Regions from separate parts of the Homo sapiens genome. Here regions 2, 3, 4 and 5 are each linked to region 1. A link means that fine-mapping ties the variant in region 1 to the plasma level of a protein whose gene starts in the linked region. Region 1 holds a variant in brackets. A gene starts in each other region. All regions are shown on their reverse strands. Region 1 has its middle 4.3 kb from the start of ALDH2. Region 2 holds the start of CD7 (CD7 molecule). Region 3 holds the start of CXCL13 (C-X-C motif chemokine ligand 13). Region 4 holds the start of CPE (carboxypeptidase E). Region 5 holds the start of CD6 (CD6 molecule).

Evidence for each region. A credible set is the group of variants that fine-mapping cannot tell apart. PIP is the posterior inclusion probability: the model's chance that the variant is causal. Protein levels are from antibody-based Olink assays in UK Biobank. Linkage for the fine-mapping came from a reference panel and not from the study's own genotypes, which makes the PIPs less certain.
Region 2: it holds the start of CD7, and the variant in region 1 is the best candidate, but not a certain one, in a credible set for the plasma level of the CD7 protein (UK Biobank, PIP 0.57).
Region 3: it holds the start of CXCL13, and the variant in region 1 is the best candidate, but not a certain one, in a credible set for the plasma level of the CXCL13 protein (UK Biobank, PIP 0.60).
Region 4: it holds the start of CPE, and the variant in region 1 is the best candidate, but not a certain one, in a credible set for the plasma level of the CPE protein (UK Biobank, PIP 0.68).
Region 5: it holds the start of CD6, and the variant in region 1 is the best candidate, but not a certain one, in a credible set for the plasma level of the CD6 protein (UK Biobank, PIP 0.77).

What each region holds. Positions count from the first base shown.
Region 1 is chr12:111,760,591-111,764,708 of GRCh38, reverse strand. No RefSeq gene overlaps it. Among named protein-coding and RNA genes, the nearest start is that of ALDH2, 4.3 kb to the left of the region's middle. RefSeq lists an enhancer at 2,510-3,045. The variant A/G (reference allele first, on the strand shown) is at 2,363.
Region 2 is chr17:82,315,389-82,319,506 of GRCh38, reverse strand. It overlaps CD7 (CD7 molecule), which reads left to right and starts at 1,899. Exons shown (of 4, transcript NM_006137.7): 1 at 1,899-2,093; 2 at 2,526-2,840; 3 at 3,098-3,312; 4 at 4,076-4,118. The coding sequence starts at 2,012.
Region 3 is chr4:77,603,925-77,608,042 of GRCh38, reverse strand. CXCL13 (C-X-C motif chemokine ligand 13) reads right to left here and starts at 2,223. Exons shown (of 4, transcript NM_001371558.1): 1 at 2,114-2,223; 2 at 208-340. The coding sequence starts at 2,177.
Region 4 is chr4:165,377,000-165,381,117 of GRCh38, reverse strand. CPE (carboxypeptidase E) reads right to left here and starts at 2,110. Exons shown (of 9, transcript NM_001873.4): 1 at 1,590-2,110. The coding sequence starts at 1,896. RefSeq lists an enhancer at 1-338 and a silencer at 1,818-2,077.
Region 5 is chr11:60,968,850-60,972,947 of GRCh38, reverse strand. CD6 (CD6 molecule) reads right to left here and starts at 1,268. Exons shown (of 13, transcript NM_006725.5): 1 at 1,034-1,268. The coding sequence starts at 1,082.

The DNA of each region.
Region 1 (4,118 bases):
AGAAGTTTAATTTATGCCCCACTACCTGTCATGTCTGAGTTTCCTTACACCCTCACCAGTAGAAGTTTCAGGATTTTTTTTTTAGCTTTGCTAATCTGAGAGACGAAAAAGTGGCATTTCACTACCACATTAATTTGCTTCTCTTTTACGAGTGAGCTTGAGCATCTCTGCCTAGATGAAGTCATGCATGTTTCCTCTGCTATGAACTAGCTGCTCATGTCTCTGGCTCACTTTTCTATTGGATTGTTGGTCTTTCTGAAATTGATTTGTAGGTGCTTTATATGTATCCAGGCAATTAACATTTTGTCTATCATATATGGCACAAATACATCCTGCCAGTCATCTTTTTACTACTAAGTAACTGTAAGTAGCTATTTCTGAACTACTGTATATTCTGTGTCATTGATCTCTGTATGCGTGTGCCAGTATGACACTGTTTTCATCACTGTAGCTTTCTAAGTCTTCTTGTTTTTTTTCCCCAAGACCAGGGTCTCGCTGTCACCCAGGCTGGAGTGCAGTAGCACAATCACAACTCGCTGCAGCCTCGACCTCCCAGGCTCAATTGATCCTCCCACCTCAGCCTCCTGAGTAGTTGTGATTACAGGTGCATGCCACCATGCCTGACTGATATGGTTTCACTGCGTCCCTACCCAAATCTCATCTAGAATTGTAACTCCCACAATTCCCACATGTTATGGGAAGAACCTGGTGGGAGGTGACTGAATTATGGGGGCAGGTCTTTACTGCACTGTTCTTTTGATAGTGAATGAGTCTCACGAGATCTGATGGTTTTAAAAACGGGAGTTTCCCTGCACAAGCTCTTTTTCTGCCTGCGGCCATTTATGTAAGACGTGACTTGCTCCTCCTTGCCTTCTGCCGTGATTGTGAGGCCTCCCCAGCTATGTGGAACTATAAGTCCATTAAACTTCTTTTCTTTTTTTTTTTTTTTGAGACACAGTCTAGCTCTGTCACTCAGGCTGCAGTGCAGTGGTGCTATCTTGGCTCACTGCAAACTCCGCCTCCCAGATTCAAGCGATTCTCCTTCCTCAGCCTTCCAAGTAGCTAGGATTACAGACGTGCCACCACGACTGGCTAATTTTTGTATTTTTTAGTAGAGATGGGGTTTCAACATGTTGGCCAGGCTAGTCTCGAACTCCTGACCTCAGGTGATCCACCTGCCTTGGCCTCCCAAAGTGCTGGGATTACAGGCATGAGCCACCGCACCTGGCCTAAACCTCTTTTGTAAATTGCCCAGTCTCAGGTATGTCTTTATCAGCAGCATGAAAACGGACTAAGGCACCAGCTAATTTTTTTTTTTTTTTTTTGTAGAGATAGGGTCTCTTTATGTTGCCCATGCTGGTCTTGAACTCCTGGGCTCAAGCAGTCAGCCCACCTTGGCCTCCCAAAATGCTGAGACTACAGGCATGTGCCACCATGCCCGGCAGCCTCCTAAGTCTTAATAGCTTGTACTAATATTTCTCTTAACCAAGATCTTTCAGCCTGGAAGTGATGAGGTTGCACATGTGCCTTCGAGGGATTCCTCTGAGAACTGCATGGAAACTCAGTTGTAGTGGGGAGGCAGGCCAGAGGCAGAGAGATGAGGAGGGCTCAGTTGGCAGAAAGAGTGTGAAGGTGGAATTGACAGGTAGCTGTGTGGAGATGAGGGCGAGAGGAGTGGAGTGGGTGCTGAGGTTCTTACCATGTGCTATTCCCCAGGATGGGGGAGCCAGGAGCAGCAGTAAACTTGGTTGTGGGGAGGGGAAGGAGAAAATGAGCTGACTTATCCACATTCGCATACATCGATACAATGTGGGCAACGTGCTTCGTCCCTGTTGGTGTGCGTGGTGTGTGTCTCAGTGCAGGACACGCTGGTCCACAGGTTCGTTTATTCTGGTTTGTCTGTGGTCTGTGGTGCTCACCATAATCCTAACCAGCAGCTCTCTCATCCCTGGTGCCCTACTGTTGGTGCACCTGTTCCACCCATGTCCTGCCCTCTCTCCTTATGGAAATCTTCCCTATCAAGATCCAGCCCAAGTCCCATCTTCTGGGAAGTCTTTTGTGACCATAGTAGCCTTCCTTAGCTGCTTTTTTTTTTTTTTTTTTTTTTTTTGAGACGGAGTCTCTCTCTGTTGCCCAAGCTGCAGTGCAGTGGTACCATCTCAGTTCACTGCAACCTCTGCCTCCTGGGTTCAAGCGATTCTCCTGCCTCAAGCTTCCCAAGTAGCTGGGATTACAGGCATGCACTACCATGCCTGGTTAATGTTTGTATTTTTAGTGGAGACAGGGTTTCACCATATTAGCCAGGCTGGTCTCAAACTCCTGGCCTCAAGTGATCCACCCAAGTCAGCCTCCCAAAATGCTG[A/G]GATTACAGGTGTGAGCCACCACATTTGGCCTCAGCTGCTTTCACACAGTCCTCAACCAAATACTGCAGACCAAGATCACCTGGATGTGCTGAAACGCTATTGTAATTATGGCTCCTTGTGGCTCAGTCTCTCCAAAGAATGAACTAAAACTTAACTCTCAACCTAGATTTCACCCTGACAGTCTGAGGCTTTCCTCTCTTCCACGTTTCTTTCCATCTGTTTCCTGGTTCTTCATCGCCCCTTGTCTGTGGGCTCACTGGCAGGAATGGGGCCGGCAGAAGCACAGGCATTCTCATGGTGCTGAGACCTTCGGTGGAAGCACCTCAAGCCACTTAACTTCCTCTAAGATATTCAAATTCCTAGCTTTCAACTACTCTGAAACCTTTCATTGTTAGGGCACAACTGATGTGCTTTCAGGCTTTAAAAAACCCTAGTTCCACTTGCTCTCCAACAAAGGTTGTGACTGAGGTCTCCTTCAGGGTCACTGACTGGTGAGATTCTAGATGTTTGGTTGTTTAGTCCCCGTTCTGGGACACTGACTCTGTCTATGGAAGCTCTTTGTTGCTGTTGTTGCAAACAATGATGTTAGGTGAGGAATTTAAAGCCCCATTTTAACAGGAAGACATCTGGCTGGGGGCAGTGGCTCAGCCTATAATCCAACACTTTGAGGCCGAGGCGGGCGGATCATCTGAAGTTGGGAGTTCTAGACCAGCCTGACCAACATGGAGAAACCCCATCTCTACTAAAAATACAAAATTAGCCAGGTGTAGTGGTGCATGCCTGTAATCTCAGCTACTTGGGAGGCTGAGGAAGGAGAATCGCTTTAACCCGAGAGGCGGAGGTTGCGGTGAGCTGAGATAATGCCATTGCACTCCAGCCTGGGCAACAAGAGCAAAACTCCGTCTCAAAAGCAAAACAAAACAAAACACAGTAAGACATCTGCCCTCACAGGTAGGAGGAAAAATATGGTCAGCCCTGAGCCCCAGCTCTGCCCTCCTTGTTTGCATATGTACACACACACACATACACACACACACACACACACACACACACAATCTCTCTCTCTCTCGGACACACAGCTGGCTTGACACTCCACAGGCAGCCAGGGCCACAGGGCAGACACCCCCATCATGGAGCCTGACCCCCTAAGAGGCAGTCGGGGGGGCATCCCGGAGATTATTCTGGAAGCATCAGAAGCTCATGCACTTCTTGAGGGCACAGCACGCTCTCCTTGGTGACATGAGCCTCATCATCTTCCTCCTTTCCTAGGTGAGGAGGCCAGTACCTCACAGAGGTGATCTTAACGATCCATGCCATGGAGTAGAAAGAGCTCTGGGATCTTCTGAATTTAGGTTTGAATTCACTGACAAGCTGTGTGATCTTAAGCAAGTTGCACAATTCCTTTGAACCTCTGTCTCCTCATCTCTAGCAGGGGCAGAATAAAAGGATCTGCCAATTGTTATAGGGTTCAAAATAACTGGCCAGGCGCAGTGGCCATGCCTGTAATCCCAGCACTTTAGGAGGCTGAGGTGGGTCAATCACCTGTCAGGAGTTCAAGACAAGCCTGGCCAACATGGTGAAACCGTCTCTACTAAAATTACAAAAATTAGCCAGGTGTGGTGGTGCGTGCCTGTAGTCCCAGCTACTCAGGAAGCTGAGACTGGAAAATCACTTGAACCCGGGAGGCAGAGGCTGCAGTGAGCTGAGATCGTACCACTGCACTCCAGCCTGCACAACAGAGTGAGACTCTGTCTC
Region 2 (4,118 bases), not on the chromosome of region 1:
GCGAGTCACGCACACCCGTCTCTGCACACACACGTGTTCACATGCACCCGTCTCTGCAAACACGTGTGGAGTCACGCACACCCGTCTCTGCACATGCGTGGAGCCATGCGCACCCGTCTCTGCACACACGCGTGTCCACACGCACCCGTCTCTGCACACACATGCGTGGAATCACGCGCACCCGTCTCTGCACACACGCGTGGAGTCATGCGCACCCATCTCTGCACACACACGTGTCCACACGCACCCGTCTCTGCACATGCGTGTCCACACACATCCATCTCTGCACACACGCGTGTCCACATGCACCCGTCTCTGCACACATGCATGGAGTCACGCGCACCCGTCTCTGCACACACAAGTGTCCACACACCCGTCTCTGCACACGCACGTCCACACGCACACGTCTCTACACACGCACGTGTCCACACGCACCCGTCTCTGCACACCCGCGTGTCCACACGCACCCGTCTCTGCACACACGCATGGAGTCACGCGCACCCGTCTCTGCACAAAGTGTCCACACACACCCGTCTCTGCACATGCGTGTCCACACACACCCGTCTCTGCACACACGCGTGTCCACACACATCCGTCTCTGCACACACGCGTGGAGTCATGCGCACCCATCTGCACACACACGTGTTCACACGCACCCGTCTCTGCACATGCGTGTCCACACACACCCGTCTCTGCACACACGCGTGTCCACACGCACCCGTCTCTGCACACACGCATGGAGTCAAGTGCACCCGTCTCTGCACACACGTGTCCACACACACCCGTCTCTGCACACGCACATCCACACGCACACGTCTCTGCACACGCACGTGTCCACACGCACCCATCTCTGCACATGCGTGTCCACACACACCCGTCTCTGCACACACGTGTCCACACGCACCCGTCTCTGCACACACGCATGGAGTCACACGCACCCGTCTCTGCACACACAAGTGTCCACACACAGCCGTCTCTGTACACGCACGTCCACACGCACACGTCTCTGCACACACACGTCCACACGCACCCGCCTCTGCACACGCACGTGTCCACACGCATCCGTCTCTGCACACACACGTGTCCACACGCACCCGTCTCTGCACACACACGTGTCCACACGCACCCGTCTCTGCACACACATGTCCATACGCACCCGTCTCTGCACACACACGTGTCCACACACTCCTGCTCATGTGCTGCACCTACTGGCTTTGGGCACCAACGTCAACGCTTCGTCATTGTGGCGGGAGGCCCTCAGGACAGAGAAGTGCCCCCTCCCAGAGGACTCAGTCACCCTGGGGTCAGAGCCCAGGCACAGGTCTCCCTCAGCCCCTGAAGCTGGGCACTGCGGCCTGACGCACTCCTCCCAGGGAGGTCGGGAAACCTCAGGCCTGGACCATACCTCAGACCTCCCGCCTCCAGGACATGGAACGCAGAGCCACGGTCAGCTGGTCGGCTGCAGCGTTGGGTGCGGGTGCAGGCCCAGGCTCCTTCCCCACGGCCAAACCAGGGGGTGCCAATTCTGGCCTGCCCTGTGCTCCTCTGCACTGTGTGGGTGACTCATGGGTCATGGGTGGCTCCAGATTTCTGGGCATAAATTGGGTCCCAGCAGAAAGTACCCCAGAGGACCAGGCAGGCTGGGGGCCAGCTCTGCCGCTCACTTCCAGACCCTGCCACCCGTCCCCAGCCAGGGAGTCCCTTCTCTGTCCTCTGGTCTGCCCCGCCCCAGGCCTTGACCTCCTCCCTGTGGAGATGCAGGGGCAGTGGGGGATACAGGGACGCCCTGCTCTCAGGGCAGCTCTCAGGGAGGCAGTGCTGGGGAGGGGTAGGTGAGACCGCCCCTCCCACCGGGCCCACAGCACCACCCTGGTCTGAGGCACCGCCTCCAGGAAGCCCTCTCTGAGCTCTGAGCGCCTGCGGTCTCCTGTGTGCTGCTCTCTGTGGGGTCCTGTAGACCCAGAGAGGCTCAGCTGCACTCGCCCGGCTGGGAGAGCTGGGTGTGGGGAACATGGCCGGGCCTCCGAGGCTCCTGCTGCTGCCCCTGCTTCTGGCGCTGGCTCGCGGCCTGCCTGGGGCCCTGGCTGCCCAAGGTAAGAGCTTCCCAGGCTCTCCATGGCCACAGCTCCAGAGCTCTCCCTGCCCCATGAGCTCAGAGCCCCCAGTCTGAGCCACAGCACAGCCCCCAGGAAGCGGGTGGGGTGCTGAGCGGCCTCCAGTGTCTGAGGACTCATTTAAGAGAAGGAAAAAGGGTGGACCCCGGTGGGGAGTGGCCGGGGCTGTCCAGGCAGGGCCGCTGCTTTGGGAGGAAGAAGCCCACAGTCTCGGAACACGAGGACAGCACCTCCCCCAACACCACAGCCGGTGCCCAGATCTGCTCCATGCCCCGTAAGGCACCGTGTCTTTGGCGACATGTCAGCCCTGGGCTGTCTCAGGGCCCCACCATCCCCACCACTGTCCCCTGCAGGGAGGACATTCTCTGTCCTTCTGGCCAGACTGATGGTGACAGCCCAGGTCCTCCCCAGAGGTGCAGCAGTCTCCCCACTGCACGACTGTCCCCGTGGGAGCCTCCGTCAACATCACCTGCTCCACCAGCGGGGGCCTGCGTGGGATCTACCTGAGGCAGCTCGGGCCACAGCCCCAAGACATCATTTACTACGAGGACGGGGTGGTGCCCACTACGGACAGACGGTTCCGGGGCCGCATCGACTTCTCAGGGTCCCAGGACAACCTGACTATCACCATGCACCGCCTGCAGCTGTCGGACACTGGCACCTACACCTGCCAGGCCATCACGGAGGTCAATGTCTACGGCTCCGGCACCCTGGTCCTGGTGACAGGTAGGGAATGTGCCCATCCCAGACCCCCCTCCCAACCCCAGCTGCTGGCCAGGCTCTGCTCCCCCAGCCCTTGTCGTGGGACCCTCCCTCCTACATGTGCCTGAACTGTTCCAGCTCCCAGCCCACTGCCCCCAGCAGCCTCCTAGATAGCTGCCCCTCCTCCCCTCCACAGCCTTTCCCTGCCCCGAATCCCAAACCCCGGGGGCTCTAACAGGTTCTCCACCGGGAGAATCCCTTCCTTCTTTTTTCCTTCTCAGAGGAACAGTCCCAAGGATGGCACAGATGCTCGGACGCCCCACCAAGGGCCTCTGCCCTCCCTGCCCCACCGACAGGCTCCGCCCTCCCTGACCCGCAGACAGCCTCTGCCCTCCCTGACCCGCCAGCAGCCTCTGCCCTCCCTGCGGCCCTGGCGGTGATCTCCTTCCTCCTCGGGCTGGGCCTGGGGGTGGCGTGTGTGCTGGCGAGGACACAGGTCAGTGTGAGCCCCAGCTGCCACCTGCACCCCAAAGATTGTTCCCTCTCCTGAGAGCAGCGTGGGGGGCGCCAAAGCCCCAGAGGAAAACCCTGGTACCCGCCGCCTCCTCTGCAGGCTCTGGAACTCTCAGGGTGGAAGTGGCCTCGGCGGGGAGGGAGGGGGACCAGCACCAAAGCGACCTGAGGGGGAGGGAGCAGCCCAGGCGCTGGGCCCGCGTGTGCGCGTGTGCGCGTGTGCAGGTGTGAGTGTCTGAGGGGGGATCTCTGAGGTCTGTGCGTGCAGGTTGGAGTGTGCGGGCAGAGGAGGGAGCGCCCAGGCGCTGGGCCCGCGTGTGCACGTGTGCAGGTGTGAGCCTGTGTGTGGGGATCTCTGAGGACTGTGCGTGCATGTTGGAGTGTGCCGGCGTGCTGTGTGGCCGTGGGAAGGGGAGGGGGCCTCAGACAGACACAGAGTCTAGGCGTGGCCACTCCCCTCGGTCCCTGCTGTTTGTCTGGGGCTGGAGTGGGGGTCCCGCTTGGCTTGGGCTTGGTGGGGGGGTCCAAGCCACTTCCACTCTCCTTCTTCAGAGGCACCCCAGGGTCCGACCCAGCCCTGCCTGGGGAAGGCTCTGCTGGGAAGCCCTGGGGCTCAGGAGACCTGGGGGCCAGCCCAGAGGAGCCCCGTGGGGGTCTCGTGTTAAAATTAGAAAGCTGACCGGAGTGGGGTGGGGTCCAGGACACCACGCTGGCCACTGGTTGGAGACGGCGGTTCTGTCTTTCAGATAAAGAAACTGTGCTCGTGGCGGGATAAGAATTCGGCGGCAT
Region 3 (4,118 bases), not on the chromosome of region 1:
AATGAGTATGTGCATGTAAAGCACTTAGCTCAGGGCTGCTGCAAACTAAGCTCTTAATTATTAACAATTTTCATTATTAGTTTGAGAATTTTTAGCAACACTCAAGTAAATCTCTTCGACATTCTTGAGTAAGACTACTGTATGGTAACATTTGATCTGATTTCATTGGGAGAAGGAAATCTTATTTATTTTTCTCTTGAAACTTACATGATTTCTTTTCTTGGACAACCATTCCCACGGGGCAAGATTTGAATTCGATCAATGAAGCGTCTAGGGATAAAGACTGAGCTCTCTTGGACACATCTACACCTCAAGCTTGTGTAATAGACCTCCAGAACACCTGTAAGTAAACACAGAATCAGTTATTTTAATCCATTGGCATGTAATTCATAACTAGAATTTAATTACTAATCTTTCATAACGTGCATTTGAAGACTTAAAAGTTTCAAGTCAGTGCTTCCACCCATATGTCTTTAGTTTGTATATTTCTGCTTGTCTTGGCTTGAGTATTTTCAAATGTTTTCTACCAAAACTTTAAAAATAAAGTTAGCTTTTAGGCCAGGCACAGTGGCTTACACCTGTAATCCCAGCACTTTGGAAGGCCAAGGTGGGAGGATTGGTTGAACCCAGGAGTTTGAGACCAGCCTGGGCAACAAACGGAGACCCCATCTCAGAAAGCAAACAAACAAAGCAAAAAGAAAACAAAACAAAAATTAGCTTTCAAAAAAACACAGCAATTTTGAAATTTGTGATAGTGTTATATTTGTACTCAGGTGATAGTCCACATAATAAAATTTGAGAACAGCCTCTGTAGGGACTTACAACTCAGTTATAATTAATGCAATATAAAACCAGTGGATTATCTTCACTCCCAACACATAAAAACCGAGGACATGACCTGGCTCAAGAGTCCTGGGAGCAATAACATGCTGGAACAGAGTTTTCTCTATCAGACTCTCTGCCATCCTCCCCTTTCCTCTCAGAAAATGTCACAGACGTTTTTGTTTGATATGTTGGTCCTCTGTCTGGGTTGCAAATCATTACAGAACAAAAGGCAATCATAAAAATTCAAAAGTCTTTTTATTTAACAAAAGCAATTAATACTGGATGGGTACCATTAGTATCCATCTCATGAATTTTAATGGGATCTAATGAAATCTAAGCCAAAGACATTTATCAGATCTTTTCTATCCAGCCTACTACTGTGCTTGACATACATTTATAAATAAAAAGGCTCACCTCTCAAGGTGTGTACAAGTTAGTAGGGGAAACAAGCAAACAAAAACTAAAATACCACAGAAGGTTGTATTACGCTCAAAATCTAACATGCATGCTGAGAACAGAAGATGTACTAAGAGCTACCTCTGCCGGGAGCCATGGGAAAGCCCCGTGGAGAATGCAAGAAATTAGGGTTTTGAAGAGTGAAAATAACATGTGAAGCAAAATTAAAACTGGGGGACAAAGCTCCTCTGTGTTTTAAGAACAAAAATTTGGCCTTCTAAATCTGAGCAGAAGGCTTCTTTCTGCACATATCCATTTCTTCGGCCACATAAAAACTTACTACTTCAACTGGATATTTATCTATTGACACAAAGATAGCTGCCCCACTTAGACATGGAAGTCTGCTTCTTTGCAGAATGTGTGTAAATACCCCTGGTGTACTGACAGTGGTGTACTTGATGTCAGATCTAACCATTTGGAGTTACATGAAGCATGTTCACTGCAAGAGACCAGTAGAGTTCAATAATCTTTAAACCCTGTATAGGGTTTGGTCAGAGTGGGTAACATTGAGAGGCAGAACAAAGAAGAGCTACATGTAAAGAATTATATATAGCAGGAGCTGAATCAGAAAAAGGCTGGGAATATATAATTCACATGAATATTGGACTTGTGGTATCTCTTTTTGCTATAAATAAAAATCTTAACAATATAAATACTTCCAGTTTTGAAGAGTTAAATTCCTAAACACCTTACTTTGAGAAATCTAGAAGGAACAGAGCAGTTTTTTCCCCCTTTAGTCAGACTTCCCTGCGGTTTTTAATCGAAAGAAAATTGAAGTGGTTAAAGACTATTTCTGTTCAACAAACAGTGAAATGTAAATGAAATTTCTCACCTTGGACTGGAGAGAGGCTGCTGACCAGCAGCATGAGAAGCAGAGATGTCGAGATGAACTTCATTCTGTCTGGAGGTAGAGTTCAGACTTGAGCTCTGAGTCCAGGCTGTGGGTTTGCAGTACCAGAGACTCCTATTTATTTATACCAGTAAGGGCCCTCCCACTGCCTTTGTCTCCAGTAGGTCAGCTGCATCATCAGCTTTAAAAGCCCCCAAATATTGCTGAGCTTGCTTTTTTAAAACTTCTCTTGCAAACTTTATAAATTTGTTTCAGAGCACTATAATAAAATATTTCTTGCAAACATGGACTATAAGTGCCAGAGACACTGGAGAAATCTGAGGGTGGGGAGAAAGGATAATCTATCAGCTTGGAAGCTCCAAAGCACTGTCTTTAGTAGCGCTATTGGTGATGGTGGTTTTGAGTGCTTCTCTCAGTGCAGGGTGAGCCAGGTTTCTCAGTGGCATTAGATATATACTCCATGACATTGGGGACTCCGTCGAGCGCATCACGTCCCTAGCATGTGGAAGGGATTCCGGCCTTTGGTAGGTGCTCAGTAAATATTTGCACAGCAAATGAATGTCTCTTTATATACAGATCCTAACGCTGATTATGCTATTGATTTTCCTACCAGTCTTTTCCATCTCTTATTTTGCTATCTGAAATATATGATTACTTATATAATCTGACCATCATGGAATTCTTAGAAGGGGGCAGTAGGAGTCCCCTGCTTTGTGTGCCTGTGTCTGCATGAAGGGAGGGAGACAACAGCCTTGAGGAAGAGAATCTCTCTGGCTGTCGTGTGCAAGTCCATGAGCTTGAGAACCATGTGGCAGGGGAGGGAGTCATTAGAACTGCATTAGAGGGTGAACCCCATATTACAGTCTGACATAAACATATGTGAAGTTAGGTTTTGATCCCACCAACTAGTCCATGGGGACAATCAGCCCACAGCTTATCCCATTTTCTAGAAGCTCTTTGATTAAAAAAAAAGTATGTAGACTGGCTAGTCTGGCCTAGAGTACCACTAAACTGCCCTGGAAGTGGACAAGGATGATGTATCAAACCAGACCCACTGATCTGCTAAGAAATCAGAGGTTTGGGCTTCCTGGCGCGATTTCCTAAACAATTTGGTTTTTGCTAATCAATTAGCATTGTGGATGTTTAGCATCCCAGGTGCCTCAGTATTCATGGGGGTAGAAGTGGAGGAGTGGTAATGCCACACAACCTTCACACAAAAGCAGTTCTCCAGTCAGCCTGAACGCAGTGACAGGGCACTCATTGATCTTGAGGCAGGTTATTCTATTGTTTGGCACTTCTAGTTGTTACGATGTTCTTCCTTATGTATATGTGAAAGCTGCTTCCCTAGCAGTTTGTTTATGCTTGTGTTGTGATAAGGGGTTGAATTTTGTCCTAATTCAACCCCTTATCACAACACAAAACAATTCTAAACAGTCTTCTATATGATGGCAATCCAAATATATGAAGGCAGGGTGTGCCAGTTGTGTCCTCTGCAAAGCAGATGCTGAGATGGACATTGGAGTAAAAGAAGGTTATTCAGAACAACTCCTGCGATAGACAGAAGGAGGAAGGAGGCTGAATTGGGCAGGGGGAGCCTCAGATTGCAATGCTGATCTGGTGAAGTCTACAACAGCTCAGTGGGGAGCTCCAGAGGAAAGACTGTTTATTAGAGGGGCCCATGGTGGGCAGAAATGTTCAGACTCTTCTACCCCAACCGTGCTCGGTCCTTAGCTGGGCCTCCTCAGAAACAACATGGTCTCTGGTTGAAAGCTGAAGCAGAGCCCGAGGAGGTTATCAGTAGAGGCTGTCAGCTAACTGCACTCCTTGCCGCTGGCCAGCAAGTTATTTCTTTAAGAGAGAGTTGAGTAGGCCACCTTTGAGTGTCACTCAGGGTTATAAACTAGAGGTTAACAGCACAAAGTCTGAGCTCAGCCTGGCAATGACTTTGGACAGGTCACTTAATTTCTCTATGCCTCATATTTACCAC
Region 4 (4,118 bases), not on the chromosome of region 1:
TATAATCTCTTGAAGTAACAACGCAAAAAACTCTGGGATCAATCTACAAAATAGAGTAACAAAGGGTTCTCATTAAGTAAGCAGCAGGAGACTCACAAATACTTACATTAGCTTTAACTGTGCCTAGGATATCTTGGCTTTGGTTATTGGATTTAGCTGAAAATCAGTTATCACATTTTAAATTTTTCCCTGTCTTCAGATAACAGTATGAAACTAAGTTTCAAAATGTCCAATCCTACATGCTGAATCCTGGTAGATAAGAGTAGTTAATATTAAATGTTTTCTAGGATCTGATCTTAGAATTTTGACAGCAAACTTACATGAACCTTTTTTTCTTATATTATTTGAAGGTAAGAAATATTTCCTGAAGATTTATTCTTGATCAACCCACCTACTATATATTTGAAGATCAAAATGTCTATTGATCACTTATTTTAATCTCTTCTCAGTTTGGTTCTTACGTATCATTATAAAACTATACTGGCCCTGCACTGAGAATTTTTAGCCTACTTTTCTTGCTTGCTTTGTCATTAAACAAAAATTAAGCATCCATCCCATGCTGATATTATTAGCACAGATTACTTTAGCTGTACCTTGATTATCAGAAGACCAGGCCCAAATTATTTCCTAAGCAGAAACATAACGAAAAAAGTCCCAAGAACATTTTTAAATACCTCTTTATTAATACTAAATGCATCACAATTAACATAAACCAAAAGGTGCTTTAATATACTCCTAGGAAAGACGAATACAGATGGTTATTTGGGAACATCAGTTGGAATAAAGACCCCATCACAAACTATTCATCTCAAATGGTTATAGCAGAGAAAATGGAATACTCCTTTTTCCTTGGAAAGGCCTTGTGCAGTTTCAAAATCTGGTTTCAAAAGTCAGAAACCACTTTTCACCCTGGTAGGAGGAGGGGCACCAACGTATCTTTATACACCACCACCCCAGATTGGCAATATCCCTAAGATTCCCCAAGCATCCACAGCAGCGAGTGTACCTAATACGTATACACACACAGGTAGAGATGGGTACACAGAGCCAATAAACTGGTCCTCTGGAAATTAGAGAAAACATGATAAATGACTCTTTCTCCCTCGTTCTCCTTTCCTCTCAATCACTGCCTTCTGCACCTTATCTTTCTACTCTTGTCAGCAAGGAAGACCAACCCCCCTTGCGGGGGACTCGCAATCATTCCTTTGGGTTTTTCACACAGCAAAGTGAGAGCGACCGCTGGGGTTGCGTGCGTCAGGATTTGTTTTTTCTGTATTGCTATCCCCCCCATCCCCCGCCACCCCAGCCTCCCAAGCCTATACTTACTAGAGGGTGGCCTAAGGTCTGGGGAGATGGGATTGGTGCTGGGGGGATGGGACGGGAAAGCAGAAATTGGGCCACTGGCGCTCTAAGTCGGGTTCTTCCCCATTTCCATCCCTCCCTCCACTTCCCACCTTCCACCTTAGATACCTTTTACCAAGAGGCACCCCTGGGCCCATCCCTCCCTCCTTCCCCCACCGCCACCAGTCCCACCCTCTGCCGCCCCCCTCCGGGATGCCCCCAGGGCTGTCAGGGGGCAGCGCCCTTACCAGGCTCATGGACGCCAGGGTTGTCGGACAGCTCGATGACCAGGAGCTCCCGGCCCTCGAAGCTGCGCCCCACCGTGTAAATCCTGCTGATGGCGGTGCACTGCAGCCACACGGACACGAGCGCCTCGCGCAGCTCGGGGTAGCGGTGGTACTCGAAGGAGATGCCGTCCTCTTGCTGCAGCCGCCGGCGCCGCCTCATGCCCGCCGCGGGCGCCCCGGGCTCCTGGGCTTCGGCGCCCAGGAGCCACCCGCAGGCAGCCAGTGCCCCGCACAGAGCCAGCAGCGCGCTGCCCCCTCGCCCGGCCATCGCTGCGCTCCGCCGCCGCCGGCCGTGCCTTCCTACGCGGGCGGCCTCTTTTGTCTGCCCGGCCCTGGGCTTAGCCCGCCGGCGCTGCTGGGGGCGGCAAGTTCCGCACCAGCCTCTACTCGCCTCACCTTCCCCGGCTGAATGAGTGTCAGCCCGCGCACTGGGGCCACCCAGAGGAGACGGGCAAAGCCGCGGCTCCACGGGCTGCACTACTGGCCGCGGAGCCCAGGGGAGCTGCAGGAGAAACCACTGCGAGGAGGGGGCCGGCGGAGAGACGGGCCGGCGTGGATCTGGGAGGGCTGCTGGCGTTATTTGCTGGCTCGGAACCACGTCAACAGCCAAATGGCGTCCGGGACGACGCAGGTGAAATGACAGCTAAGGTCCGGGGTTCGGGAACGTTACTGTCATTGAGACACCCATGACCCACCCACGTCACTGCGTATGGAAAAAATATTCTTGTATTGTTAGTGGAGCCTTTTAAAGGGACATCTATTCCAAGCCTACCAGTTTCCATCTTGATCCACCAAGAATTAGAGAATATTCCAGAAAAAAGGAAGTACTGGCAGCCACTTGCCATCTCCTGATGCGTCTTTCATAATTGTATCAAGAGTCAAAACACAAACCCAAGGGTTGGGTTTTCATTTATTAGAAGGTCTTGCTGGAAATCAGAACATTAAGTGCTTTGATTTAGAGGTTTAAGAGAATAGAAATGCTTTCTTCCAATTTGTAGATACTGTCCTTAATTGTATTTATGCACATTCCTAGATTCTTCCAGAAAACAAACAGACAAAATAAATAAGGCAATGTCATATGGCTGTGCCTGCACCAGCCCTCCTCTTTAATACTATGGGGAAAATAAGTACAACTCTGCTGATGCTTTAGACAAAGGATTTAGTTTGGCATTAAGATTAAATCCTGTTAAGAAAACTCTGATGATGACATGACACCTCCGTTCCTTTTGCAAAGCTATTGTAAAAATAAAAAATCATTTACAGCTTTAAATATCCACCCCTTAGTCGGGATTTATATTCCTGGAGCAATGTCTGGAGCAGATGTTACTCTAAAGAGGCTGCTGTTTGGATTCAGGGACAGCACAAATCTAAATTAATAAATAATCCATTGGGTATTGCAACCGAGCAGGAAAAGTGGACACCATGCGGGTAATTTTCCATGTTAAGCTTCTTTGTTTTTCTAAACTTGTTCATTCTTCACCTGTTTAACAATGCATTGCACATAATAAAAACTTTTACGTGGAAAAGGAGTTAGATATTTAAGTCATCTTATTGGATCAATAAATAAAAGCACAGACATGGTTGGTAAGGTGCTGCTGGAGGGGCTGGCTTTAAACACCCCTATGTACATATACTACAGCAGCATGGATCTTCTTTTTTTTTTTTTTTTTTTTTTTGCGTTTTCGGGGAGAAACTGTCACTGTAAACACATGGCACTCAAGTTGAATTGATGTGGATCCAGCCATTTTTTTTTTTGTCAATGTAGGCAGAGCTAAAAATTGTATATTTTCCACTATGACCAGTCTGTGCTTGATTACATGGTCCAGAAGTTTGAAATCAAACTTATAATTATATTTCTAAAACCATGCCCAAAACAGCAACCTTGGAAGCCTAGAAAAAAAAATTGAGTAGCTAAAACCAAATAACTTCAGAAGTAGGAGGTTAAGATTTTCATGTTAGCAATTTAGAGTAACCACACTAATTTGTGGCTAGGTGGGGCATACTGACTAGTAACTACACACATAAACAACATATTTTTCATTGAAGTCCTGTGTTGTTCCTTAGCTGTCTCTTTGAACAAAGGATATGCGTTCTATTTTCTCCAAAATAAAAAATTTTGGAATGAAAACTTGGTCTTTGAATTTCTGGGCTATTTTTAGGTGTAGGTCAGCTGTACCAACTTTACTGGCATATGTATTACTTGTTTGTGGCTTCATAGGCAATTATACAAAAGATTATATATCCACCCTGATTGCTGGATTTAAAAAATTTTATTTTGGAGAAAAAAAAATTGTAATGTGTAAAATCATGCCTACTATGTGGTCTCACTTGTTGGGCAGGGGGTTCTCTTTTACAGCTTAGTTGTTTGTTTCCCTAATCTATAAAATAAAAGGTTTGGATTTTTCACTCTCTAACGTTTGCTTGCAACAGAATCATGTAGAGAGTTTATAGAATGTGCAGATTCTTAAGCCCCTATGAATTCATCAGGTC
Region 5 (4,098 bases), not on the chromosome of region 1:
AAACTCCAGTTCCCAGAGCCGAATGGCTTTCCCTGAACCAGTATGAGGCCACAGGCTCGGAACACATGCCTGGAGATCAAGGCAGAGAGGAGAGCACTCCCTGCCCAGAGTCTCGCGACATGTACCCAGTCCTCCAAACCAGCTCGATGCCCCCTCCTGACTGGGTCTTCCTGGGTCTCCTCCATCACAAAATGAAAGCACTTGGCTCTCTGGCTGCAAGGTGGACCCAGACTCCCCTGGCCCGAATTCTGTTTCCATACCAGTCTTCCCAAATCCCAAAATGTGAGAGCTCGATGGGGTCAGGATCTCTTGCATCTCCAGGCCCCTGCCCCGCTCTGGCCAGCTTGGACCCTGCACTCAACAGGGGCCAGCAAGTATCTGGGGAGCACAGTCTAGTGCCCCAAACCTTCTGGCCATCTGATTCCCTGGCCCAGGTGGCCAGGTGCCTTGACACTTGGGGGCAGCTTGAGACGTGGGGGTGGCCTTCATGCTCGCTTATGCCCTAGACTACCCCAGCTGGTTGTGCTGAGGCCATCAGCGCCTGGTTGTCCAGAACTCTCCCTGGCTTCCCTGAGTCCTGTTTCGGGAGGTGCTCTCCTGTGATTGGCCTACGCCTGCTGGACCCCAAGCCTCAGCTTTGGCGTTGAAAGTACCACCATCAGTGGTCCTGCCTCTCTGGAAGGTGAACGGTTCCTTCTTAAGAGTTGGCAAGAAATAGGAAATGGGGGAGTTCCTGAGCTTAAGGATGGGAGAGGCACCTCCCTCCTCACACCCTAGGGACCCATTGGTAAGGCACAAAGCATGCTTCCCACATTCTGTCACTCCAGGAGGCTTCCAGGCACAGCCCCAGCCCCTCGAGGGGCTCCTGTGTCCTCTCCTAGCCCCAGATGCTGGACCTCCCTGGTACCTGAGTGTAGTCTTGGCTAAAAGATCCTAGAAAAGTGACCACAAGGAAACAACCAGAAAGGGGACTGAGAGGGCCGGACCCGGCTCCTCCAGCACCAGTGGCAGGAGATGAGGGAAGGGGGCCTACCTGAGAGGGCTGCCGTCAGCAATCCAGTGATCCCGAAGAAGAGCCACATGTCTGGAGCTGTCTCTGGCTGCTACGCGTGGCTGCCTGTGGGAAGCACCATCTTGGGGCCGGGAGGTGGACACGGCCGTTGTGCGCCCCTGGCGCAGGTCTGCTCTACCCTTTGCTGTTCTTGTTCCTGTGTCTCTCTCTGCTCTCTCCTCTCCGACACGCATGCGATCAAACCCAACCTGTGAGTGTCTCACGCCTGCTTGTTCTGCTTGTGGTTTTGGTCTGCAGGAAGCTGGGCTGCTGTTACAGGGGCTGGTGGGGAGAGCCCCAGCTGCCTGTGCTGGGAGCCCACCCATCCAGGCTGCACCCCAAGAGTCACGGAGCCAGACACACGCATGCACACGCATCCATGCAGACACACTTCCCCGAGGGTCTTCTAAGAAGAAGGGAAGTGGAAGAGCCATGCCTCATTTCTGGTGGCCCAGAAGAAAAAATTGATAATGTAGTAGCTGCTCAATCAGTACATATTGGAAGAGGGAGTGAATGACCCATTGCCTGTCCCGGTCCGTGTAATTTGGCTCTCTTGGATTAAATCCTGAGTTTTATCTTAACCTTAGGTGCAATGGTGGTTGGGAAGGAGGGTGTGGTCTTGATGCACTTTTGGAGATAAGAGCCTAAGTCTCCCCTCAGAGAAATATAAATTGGGAAGGGCCTGAGAGATGGCCATCCCACAAGTCCTTCTACAGGGAAGGGTGCCAAGGCCTTGTGGGAGCCGCCCCGTCAGATGGCACAGTGGGGCCAGCTATCCCATCTCCAGGTACCAGACTGGGCATGCCTCCGTGGGAGTCAGGCATGGGAGCTGGGTCTACAAGGCTGAGCAGGATTTTGACAAACAGCAATCATGGGAGGCCTCTGGGCCAGAAGGAATAGCAGGAGCAAAGGGCTGAAGGAAGGAAGCCCAGGGCTGCCTGAGAAACCCCGAGTTGCCCCATTGCACTGCAGCAGACTGACGCTATAGGAAGAAGGCAGGGGCCAAGCGTGTTTAATTCCCATGGTACTCCCTGTGGAGCATATGGTAGGAGGTGAATAAATGTTTATTGAATGAGAAAAGGAATAGATAATTTGGTTGTCCAAGCAGGGCCCTGGAAGTGGTCAAATCCAGAAGGGGTTTGGTTCCAAATCCTGGCCCTGCCTCAATTGGTCCCATCCCAGGTCCACCTCTCCTGGCCCTCCACTTCCTGCATCCTTGCTTGTCTTCATTTCCCCAACATGTGGAATGAGGAGCGGTCCTCCTCCATTGGGTTCGGTCCTAAATGTGGGTGTATGCATTTGATGCGGCAAGTATTAGAGCCACGGGGAACCAGGCGCCCCCAGAGTGAGACTCCTCCCAGTCCTGCCCCAGCGCCGGCACCTGCTGCCGCTGCCCTCTGGTGGAAGTCACTGGCAGCACAGGTTTGCATGGGTGCCTCGAGCTCCCAGATGCAATTCCATTCATTTACACAGTCTTGGTGTGCAGAACTCTGGACAGGACTCTGTGGAAGTGAAAGAGAGGAAACCATATTCCTGCCCTCAAGGAGGATGAAGTTCACACACACACAAGTGACCAAACCACAGGCCAAGGTAGGACACACATAATGTGAGGTCTCCTGGTCCTAAGAGGAACCCGTTTGAAATGGGCCGGGAAGGATGGCTAGACTCCATTTCTGACAATATGGTAGACAGCAGATGCTGAAGAATTCTCCTAATACAAAACACCACAAAAATATTGTAAACCATCTTTTAAAATGTGTAGCTGAGGTGGTGAGAAATGAAGAAAATCATCAGAGATCAAAAACGACAATAAGCCTGGGCAACATGGTGAAACCCTCTCTCTGCAAAAGGTGCAAAAAATTAGCCAGGTTTGGTGGCACACACCTGCGGTCTCAGCTACTCAGGAGGCTGAGGTGGGAGGATCGCTTGAGCCCAGGAGGTCAAGGCTTTAATAAGCCAAGATTGCACTGCTGTACTCCAGCCTGGGCAACAGAGTGAGACCTTGTATATGTTAATATATAAAGACAACAAAAATCCAAAGAGATCACAGCCAGCAGAGAAGTATCTGTTGATCCAGTTGACCAAGAGCTTCAGTCTTATGAACATGGACAAAAGTTAAAGCTGAGAAACAAAATCGAAGTGAAAAACAAAATCCAAAATTTCTGCCTTAAACAAAGAGCACTGAAATACAACATCCACAGTGGAGAACTCGGAGAGAAAAATTCCTTAAAGCGAGCTGACACAGAGCTTGCCCAACTCAGTATGGACTCTGAGTGGGAGAAAAATAAATGTCAACCCTGAATGCCCCTCACCACAAGTCTACCCACTAATAGGCCTGGAGGTGAAACTCATGGTGACTTTGTGGCAAAAACAACCACACAAAAAACAAACAAACAAAAAGATAAGATAAGAATTTAAAGTAAGGTAAATAATAGCTCCTTAGGCACGTGGCAGAAACAAATGATAAAAATTGTCTCTGGAGTAACTCATCCTATATTCATGACTCAAAGAAATCCCACAGAAAAACTCCCATGGAACATGAGTTCACATGTTTGTAAAACAGAAAAATCATAAAACACAGGACACAAGGTGCTTTAGGTGAGAGGAGCACCAAGCAATAAACTAAAAATGCAGACCTTCGAACACATCTCAGATGTTGGAATTGCAGTATATATAATATAAAATAAGGATGTTTCATATGCTTCAAGAATTAAAAGTTGGTAATTGAAAGTATAGATAAGGAACAAGAGACTATTTAAAGTGACCAGGAAGATTGAGGGAAAAAAAGCAAGCAGTTATGTAAAAACATAATTTTTGAAAATAGAAGCCCAGTGTACAGATTAAACAGTAGATTAAGGCTCAGCACTTTGGGAAGCTAAGGCAGTCTGATGGCTTGAGGCCAGGAGTTCAAGACTAGCCTGGCTAACACAGTGAAACCCTGTCTCTATTAAAAATACAAAAATTAGCCAGGTGAGGTGGCACATGCCTGTAGTCCCAGCTACTCAGGAGGCTGTAGCACAAGAATTGCTTGAACCCAGGAGGCAGAG